Linked DNA regions of Homo sapiens: region 2 is linked to region 1. The links come from fine-mapping of genetic effects on gene expression. A gene starts in region 1. The other region holds a variant in brackets. All regions are shown on one strand. Distances are from middle to middle.

Region 1 (4,385 bases):
GATCTTTTTATTTTTTTATTTTTTACTTTTTCTGGTTCAGGATCATGTCTCTTAAAGTCCTTTAATCTGCAAAAGTTCTTCTTCAGTCTTTGTCTTTGATGGCTTTCATGTATGTAAGAGTACAGGCCAGTTATTTTATAGGCTGTTCCTCAACTTGGGTCTCTGGCGCTTAAAAACAAAACAACAGAATCTCAACGTTTTGAGAATTTTAGGTGTGGTCCTGAGCCAATACTTAAATAAGCCTCTCTCCTCAAGGTTCTTTCCAGCCACCTTACACAGATTATCCTTAGTGAATTAGATTTATAGATGGTGGTGATAGACAGTAAAACATTTTTGTATTCAGAACTGTCTTGAATTACATATATTCCAACCCCTCCACCACATTTTACCATTTTAATTTAACAAAAGTAAGTTTGTTGAAGAATGAGCACATACTCTTTAAACATTTAAGTCTTAAATTACCTGTAGACTCCCATTTTGACAATCTCACCCCTGCAGTGATGACCTATGCCCTAGGCTCAGAAGACAAAGATCTGCAAAAATGGGTGTTACTCATTACAATCATTCAACAAATATTTGTTGAGTGCCTAGTATATGTCAGGCTCTGTTCCAAGCCCTGGGAATACATTTGAGAACAACAACAACAACAACAACAAAATCCTCATCCTTGAAAATCTAGTTGGAAAGATTAACCTTTTTTTTTGAGATGGAGTCTCACTCTGTTGCCCACGCTGGAGTGCAATGGCCAGATCTCGGCTCACTGCAACCCCCCGCCTCCCAGGTTCAAGCGATTCTCCTGCCTCAGCCTCCCGAGCAGCTGGGATTACAGGTGCGCGCCACCCCGCCCGGCTAATTTTTGTGTTTTTAGTAGAGACGGGGTTTCACCATGTTGGTCAGGCTGGTCTCGAACTCCTGACCTCGTGATCCGCCTCGGCCTCCCAAAGTGCTGGGATTACAGGCGTGAGCCACCGCGCCCGGCCCAGAAAGATTAACTTTTAAATTAAAAAAAAAAAAAAAATCAGAAACCGGGATTAGACTTCCCTTAAGTCATTCATGCCGGAGGTTGCAAATTCTTTTTGTGAAAAATCACACCTTAGCGATGACCTTGAGCAGTAGGATGTAAACAACTCCCACAAGCTTAGCGTTCCAATAACGGAACACAAGGCATAAACTAAACAGGAAGAAGGCAAGTCTGTGTGAATATGTTCAACTCCAAGACTCAAGATTCTAATGTGGATACTACTGCGGAATTCCTGTTAAACGCGCTGATTTAATAAAGTCTTCGGTTTATCCAAACGGGCTACACAAATGATTAATCCAAACTCCAAAGACCTAGAAAGAACAGGCGGGGCCGGGTTTCCTCAAGTGTTCCAACCACTTTTTCAGCAAGAGTCACCTGCTTGGCGACGAGCCTCCGGACCGCCCCGCGCTATCTGTTCCACCCGGCGGGGGCCACGCACGGGGTTCCGCGTCCCTGTGAGGCGGCACCTCCTGGGCCCAGCAGAGCTGAGCACCTGGGAACCGCGCACCGAGAGCCCCACGGGGAGGTGGTTAGGGGGAACCGGCTCCTCCAGGCGGCCTCGCCCACTGCAATGCAATCTGGGTGGTTTTTCCAGGTCCCTCCCTGCCTCGTTCCGCGCCCAGTCCCTGCCCCCGCGACGCCCGAGGGCCTGGACGGGTAGCTCGGAGTTACCGGGGCTGGGGAGGAGCGAGGCTACTGCAGTAAGCCAGCCGGAACCCATTTATGACTCCGCACTCTGAAGTTCAGGACAGGGAAGCACCCACCTCTGGAACTCAAGCAGTGGACGAGGGAGGTCCCGAGCGCCGTCGCAGCGCTGCGAGTGTGGGACCCTGGCCTTCGCCCGCTCTCAGGGGACGAGAGCTGCCACCTGTATCACGGGAGGCCCCGCCTCCGCCTGCACCTTCTCCTACCAGGAAACGAGACGGCGCGGGCCTCGGGCTCCTCTCCCCCCTCCCGGGAGCTGAACCCCCACTGGGAAAGCCAGGTCTCCAGCTTCCCTTGACACGCGTCTTGAAAGGTTACCGGATTTGTACCCGGAGTGGGTTCTGCAGGGATAGGTGCATGGTTGCCCGTTTCACATCATGAATATGAACGGGGCTGGACACCTAGAGCCGAATTATTAATACTTCAGACAGAATTCTGTTCCCAAGAACAAATCGCTTTGAGATATAAAACCCGAGAAAACTTCACCTCTGGCGCTTTTCTCTCTAAAATGTCAACAAGACCCAACAACATACTGCCACCGATCTGGTGGCTGGGGGGTGATGGTTGGGGTACGAGCCTCTGGGCAGACCAAGCTGAGGTGGAGCAGGGAGGTTGTTTGGGAGCTTGGTCAAGTCAACACACTCCAATACAATGCCAAAAGCATGAGCAGAGGGAATGGGGTCAGGGCGCAGAACCTGGGAAAAAGCCTGCGTGGCCCGATTTAAGAAAATTTTTATTAGGCATGCGGATAGATGCTTTTCATTTGGGGCCCAAGGCAAATAAAAGGAAATGGGCCCCAGCTCTGGAGGATGTTCCAGCTTCGAACTAGCAGCCAGGACCAAACCAGACATAGCATTCAGAGTTGACAGAAAAAGAAGCGGGCTCCATTGTGCCTGAGTTTCCTTGCGGGGTCCCCCAGCTGCTTTGCGCGCGATAACTGCGTCCTGGGGAGTGACTAGGTGGTTGGGCGTCCAGCCCCTGGCGTCCGGCTCTGCCGCGCGCGGGGTTCCTCTCCGGAAGGTGGGCAGCGCGGCGGGTTTGGGACGAGCGTGCACCCGGGCTCCGGCCCGGAGAAGGGGGGGCTCGCAGGATTTCTCCTGCTGTTTGCACTGAAAGTTGTGTTGGCTCAGGAGCTGCTTTTCCGGGGATCTGCAGTTGCCCCCGCCACCTCCTGGCTGCGGTTGGCAGGTCCCTCCCTCAGCAGTTCGTCCTCCGCCTGCGCCGCGCCCTGGGCAGCTCCGCGCCCCGGGCCTCACCTCTGGCCTCCTTTCGCCTCCCTGCACCTGGCCTTTTCGCTTGACCGTTCAGAACCTTCGGCTTCGTTCCCTGCAGCCGGTATTCTCCGAGCCCCCCTGCACCTCTCAGTTACCTCCAGTGGGAACCCCTCCCCCCAGCGACTCCGAGCCCTTTACCTCTCTGAGCCCTTTCCCCGTCTGGCCTCGTCTACCCTCTGGGTGTCAACCGCCTCTTCCCTGCCCCTCACGTCTCCCCCTCCTCCTCCCCTGCCCTCGCCTCTCCATTCATCCAGCCATTGTCTCCCGCCCCTTCCTCCCCCTCCCGAAGCGGCCTCCTCCCCCACCGCTGCCACGTCGTGGTTTGAAGGAGCCAATGGGCCGGCGCCGCCAGGTGTCTCTTACCTGCACCACGTGGGGGAGGGGGAAGGGGCGGGCAGGTAAAGCCACATCCCAAAACAGAAAAGCTTTCAGCCATTGCGTGCCTCCCGGGGGGGGCAGCCTTGCTCCAGGCTTTTTGCATAGACGCCCGGGCAACTGAATACAAAAAGGGCAGGCCTCCTGCGCCCTCCTTCCCACCCCCCTTCCTGCCCTGGGCGTGGAGCACCGACCAGGTGTGGGCTTGGGTGGTTGGTTACCGCCTTTTGCACTAGCAGTAGCAAGGAAGGGGGGTGGGCGCTCTTTCTTTTTCTCTTAGAAGAGGGTTTAGCACAGGTTTTTTCGTTCTCACTTCCACACCACCTTACCGCCTCCCGACCCCCCCTCTCCCCCTCCCCACCTATCGTCATGACGGCCTCTCCGGATTACTTGGTGGTGCTTTTTGGGATCACTGCTGGGGCCACCGGGGCCAAGCTAGGCTCGGATGAGAAGGAGTTGATCCTGCTGTTCTGGAAAGTCGTGGATCTGGCCAACAAGAAGGTATTTCTCCACATTTTCGTCTAAATGCAAGGAATGGGGCAAGAAGTTTGTGGTAGAGGTTTGGGCGGGGAGGGGGGTGGAGGTAAGTAAATAAGTGCTCTTGTTTGCCCACTTGTGAGTCTGGACCCGAGGCCTAGGGAAGCTAGAGTAAAACCAAACTTATTGGCCAACTGCCTTGGAGCCATTTCAGTCCTCCGCAACTTAGCTCAGGTGGAGAGGCCGGCGCTACCGAGCCGGGTTCTTTGCCCGTCGGGGGACGCTCCGCCGAGACGAGGTGGGGTCTCGGAGGCCCCGGGGTCCACTTCCAGGGCTTTTCCGACCTATCGGGTGGGGGGTGGGGCGGGGGGCAGGAACGCACCGGAACCGATGGCGAGTCGAGAGCTTTGATTCTGCGTCCGGACCCCAAGAGAGGCGCGGGCCGCCCCAGCAGGGGAGCGAGGGAGGAGGGTGCAGAAAGAGGCTCCGAAATTGGGGGAAACTGACCCGTGCTTCTCTACCTTCGGAGGTGG
Region 2 (4,385 bases), 23 kb before region 1:
AAAAATCTCAGATAGTGAAAGGGCAATGAAGAAAATAAATCAGGTGACAAGAAAGAAGAGAGTCTTTCTTGTTGGTTGGAGGACTCTTCAGATTAGAAGCTCAGGAAAAGTCTCTCTCAGGAAGGGTGATGTTTGAGCCAAGGCTCGACAACCTTGAAATGCCACGGAGTCTGCAAAGCAATGATCTGTGGGAAGAGGAGCCAGCATTGTGGGGGCTCAGAGATATATTGTTTAGACTTTGTAGGCTTCAAAATAAGGGGCTGGGCTGGGCACAATGGCTCATGCCTGTAATCTCAGTACTTTGGGAGGCTGAGGCTACAGGAGTGCTCGAGCCCAGGAGTTCAAGACCAGCCTGGGCAACATAGCAAGACCTTGTCTCTATGAAAAGAATTTTTTTTAAATTTAAAATAAAAAATAAAAAACAAAAACAAAATAAGGGGCTGTATCTTATTCTATTTGCTATGCAAAGTCGTTAGAGGGATTTAAACAAGAGAGTGGTTTGACCTCATTTATATTTTTTTTCTTTTTTAAGAGACAGTGTGTTGCTCTGCCTACTCAGCCTGAAATGCACTGGCACAATCATGGTTCACTGCAGCCTCCATCTCTCTGGCTCAAGCAATCCTCCTGTCTCAGCCTCCTGAGTGGCTGGGACTACAGATAGGCACCACTACACCCTGTTGCCCAGGCTGGTCTTGAACCCCTGGCTTCAAGCAGTCTCCCTCTTTGGCCTTCCAAAGTGCTGGGATTACAGGTGTGAGCCACCACACCCAGACTACATTTTAAATAGTGCTCAGTGGAGCATCAGCTCTAAGGAGGCAAGAATGGAAGCAGAGAAACCGATTAGGGAACAGTTGCAATAGTTTTAATGAAAGATGATGGTGGCATGGACTCGAGAAGTAGCAGAAAGATGGTGAGAAGTGGAAGGAAGATAAGAGCTACATTTTTCTCTTGAACAACTGCCTGGATGGTGGCGCTGTTCAATTAAATGAGGAAGACTGTAGAACCAGGCTGGTGGTGTCGATGGGGGAAACAAGAGTTCTATTTTTGGGCTGGGCCTAGTGCGTCATGCCTGTAATTCCAGCACTTTGGGAGGCCAAGGAGGGAGGATCGCTTGAGGCCAAGAGTTCAATACCAGCCTGGGCAACATAGCAAAATCCTGTCTCTTAAAAAAAAAAGAAGTTCTATATTTGTTGTCGTGTTTTTTTGTTGTTGTCTTTTGTGTGTGTGTGTGTGTGTCTTTTTTCTGGAGACAGAGTCTCACTCTGTCACCCTGGCTTGAGTGCAGTGGTGGGATTAGGGTTGACTGCAGCCTCGACCTCCCGGGTTCAAGCAATCCTCCCACCTCAGCCTCCCAAGTAACTGTGACTATAGGCGCATGCCAACATGCCTGCTGATTTTGTTGGTTTTAGTAGAGACGGTGTTTCACAATGTTGCCAGGGCTGGTCTCGAACTCCTGGGCTCAAGCAATCCATTTGCCTCAGCCTCCCAACTTGCTAGGATTATAGCACTTTGCCAGAAGCCACCATACCTGGCCAAGGGTTCTATTTTGAACTTGATGAATTTGAAATGCTGAGTAGATATCCAAGGGAGATGTCAAGCAGGCAGCTCCGGAAGAGGTAGAACTGTAAATGCTGTTAGCATATGGATAGTATTTAAAGCCAGCTACCTAAACAGGAGCACCTAGGAACAGAGTACAGACAAAGCAGAAGAGAGCCCAGCCAGGGCTCCAGGATCCAGGACCCTGAAGAGTGAGGCAGGGGAGGTGGGGCCAGTAAAGGAGCTGAGAAAAAAGAATTTGAGAGATAGGAGAGTCTAACATTTCAGAAATAAGGGTTGA[G/A]GGTATTTCAGGTCAAGAGGTTATGGTCAACAAAGTCAAATGCTGCTGCGCTGTTAAGAGGAGAGAGAGAAGTGATCATGACGTTGACAAGGGTGGTTCCAGGGGAGGAAGGAAGTTGAAAACCCAGTGGAACTAGGTTTTGATAGAAAGGAAAACTTCCATAAGGACAGATTTTACAGGAAAGAGAAATACCCAGATATGTCAGGAAAAGTCCATGAGAGGGCACTGAAGAAAAATCTCAAATAGAAGTTTCCAACCTGGCCGACATCAGAATGACCCAATGAACTTTAAAAAACAAAAACAAAAAACAGTTTCCTGGTCCTATGCCAAATCTATTAAATTAGTACGAGAGGAAATTGGAATCTATATTGGAATTCTCAGATAATTCTGGTTTACCTGAATTCGAGTAGAAGATGAACCCATGAGGCAGAGGTTGCAGTGAGCCGAGATCATGCCACTGCATTCCAGCCTGGGCAATAGAGTGAGACTCAGTCTCAGAAGAAAAAAAGATGAACTGGGCAGAAACATTCCCACCAGTACCTTCTCCTTGTTTGAGAAAAGAAAAAAGGTTAATAAGTAGAATTTTCTGATTTTAAGTTTATCTCCCCTAAATTTTTTCTTCAATCTTTAGAAGTTATCACTTGTCTTCTAGTGAGCTCTAGTAGGACGTAAAATGAATATTTACAGAAAAACTCAAAAAGAGATAACCACACTTAGACATCCTGCTCTTTTTCACGGATATGTGTGTTTGTGAATGTGATTTTAGGCTGCGCACACAGAATTAGAGGGATTTTTTTTTCTGCCTTATAAATTGGTTTTGTATGTAATAATGGAGTTGTTTTGATCAATTTGGATGCTGTTGTGCAAATCGCACAGAGTATCCTGCAATCAGAATGGGTTTGAGAATAATTGAAAAGAGCCCTGAAAGCTTCATGCTTTCTCTCTCTCTCTCTCTCTGCGGCAAGTAAGCAGTTTCCTCAAGGGAGGCCTGAAAGTCAAATCCCTATTCCCCTTCGGTTTAGCTGGCTGGAAGAAAATCCCAAAATGGGAATAATTTGATATGTCTGGAAGAAGCAGGGAAAACAAAATTTAAAACAGGAGCTTCCTTTATGGGAGGACCCATAATAAGGCCATTATCATAACATTCTACATGTGTTGTGCACAGTTCACAACGCATCATTATGCTTATCATCTCATTTGATCTTTATATCAATCCTGGGGAAAACTATACTATTGTCAATTTCCCATCATTAAAACAACAACAACAGCCAGGTGCAATGGCTCATGCCTGTAATCCCAGCACTTTGGGAGGCTGAGGCAGGTGGATCACTTGAGGTCAAGAGTTCCAGATCAGCCTGGCCAACATGGTAGAATTCTGTCTCTATTAAAAATACAAAAATTAGCCGGGCACAGTGGCTCACGCCTGTAATCCCAGCACTTTGGGAGGCTGAGGCGGGCAGATCACCTGAGGTTGGGAGTTCGAGACCACCCTGACTGACCAACATGGAGAAACCCCGTCTCTACTAAAAATACAAAATTAGCCGGTTGTGGTGGCACGCACCTGTAATCCTAGCTGCTTGGGAAGCTGAGGCAGGAGAATCGCTTGAACCCAGGAGGCAGAGGTTGCAGTGAGCGGGAGATTGCGCCATTGCACTCCAGTCTGGGCAACAAGAGCAAATCTCCGTCTCAAAAATAATGATAATAATACAAAAATTAGCCAGGCATGGTGGTGCATGCCTGTAGTCTCAGCTACTCCGGAGGCTGAGGCAGGAAAATCACTTAAACTCAGGAGGTGGAGGTTTCAGTGAGCCAAGATTGCACCACTGCACTCCAGCCTGGGATACAGCCTCCGTCTCAAAACAAAACAAAACAAAAAAACAACAAACAGATGAATAAATGGAGGCTTAGGTGGGTTAAGGTAATTTCAAAGGCCCTACAAGTAGAAAAGCACAAACTCCAAAGGTAGTTGTTTACAATCACAGAATAAAAAAGTGAATGAGGGCCAGGCACCATGGCTCACGCCTGCAATCCCTACACTTTGGGAGGCTGAGGTGGGAAGATCACTTGAGCTCAGGAGCCCAGAGACCAGCCTGGGCAACATGGCAAAAACCCATCTCTACTAAAAATACAAAAATTAGCAGGGTATGGTGACACACACCCATAGTCCCAGCTACTCATGGGGGGCTGAGGTGGGAGAATTGCTCTGGCCCAGGAGGTTGTGGCTACAGTGATCTGTGATCACACCACTGCACTCCAGCCTGGTCAACAGAGCTAGACCCTGTCTCAAAAAAAAAGCAAATGAACTCAGCAATGAAATGGAACAAGCTATCCATACATGCAGCAATTGGGATGACTCTCCAGGAAATTATGCTGAGTAGAAAAAGCCAATGCCAAAAGGTTCCATACGCTATGATTATTATATGTATATACAATTTTTGAAGTGACAAAATTTTAGAATTTGAACGTGGTTGCCAGGTGTTAGGTATGGCGGGAGGAAGTGGGGCAGGAGGGAGATTCATATGGTTATAATAGGGCAGCATAAATAATC

What was found. PIP is the estimated chance that this variant, and not a neighbour inherited with it, causes the effect. A credible set is the group of variants that fine-mapping cannot tell apart.
Region 2: its variant is the best candidate, but not a certain one, in a credible set for the expression of LINC02894 in lung (TOPMed, PIP 0.59).

Annotation. Positions count from the first base shown.
Region 1 is chr8:94,637,575-94,641,959 of GRCh38, forward strand. It overlaps LINC02894 (long intergenic non-protein coding RNA 2894), which reads right to left and starts at 1,893. Exons shown (of 1, transcript NR_034034.1): 1 at 1-1,893. It overlaps ESRP1 (epithelial splicing regulatory protein 1), which reads left to right and starts at 3,600. Exons shown (of 16, transcript NM_017697.4): 1 at 3,600-3,876; 2 at 4,382-4,385. The coding sequence starts at 3,745.
Region 2 is chr8:94,614,418-94,618,802 of GRCh38, forward strand. No RefSeq gene overlaps it. Among named protein-coding and RNA genes, the nearest start is that of LINC02894, 23 kb to the right of the region's middle. The variant G/A (reference allele first, on the strand shown) is at 1,838.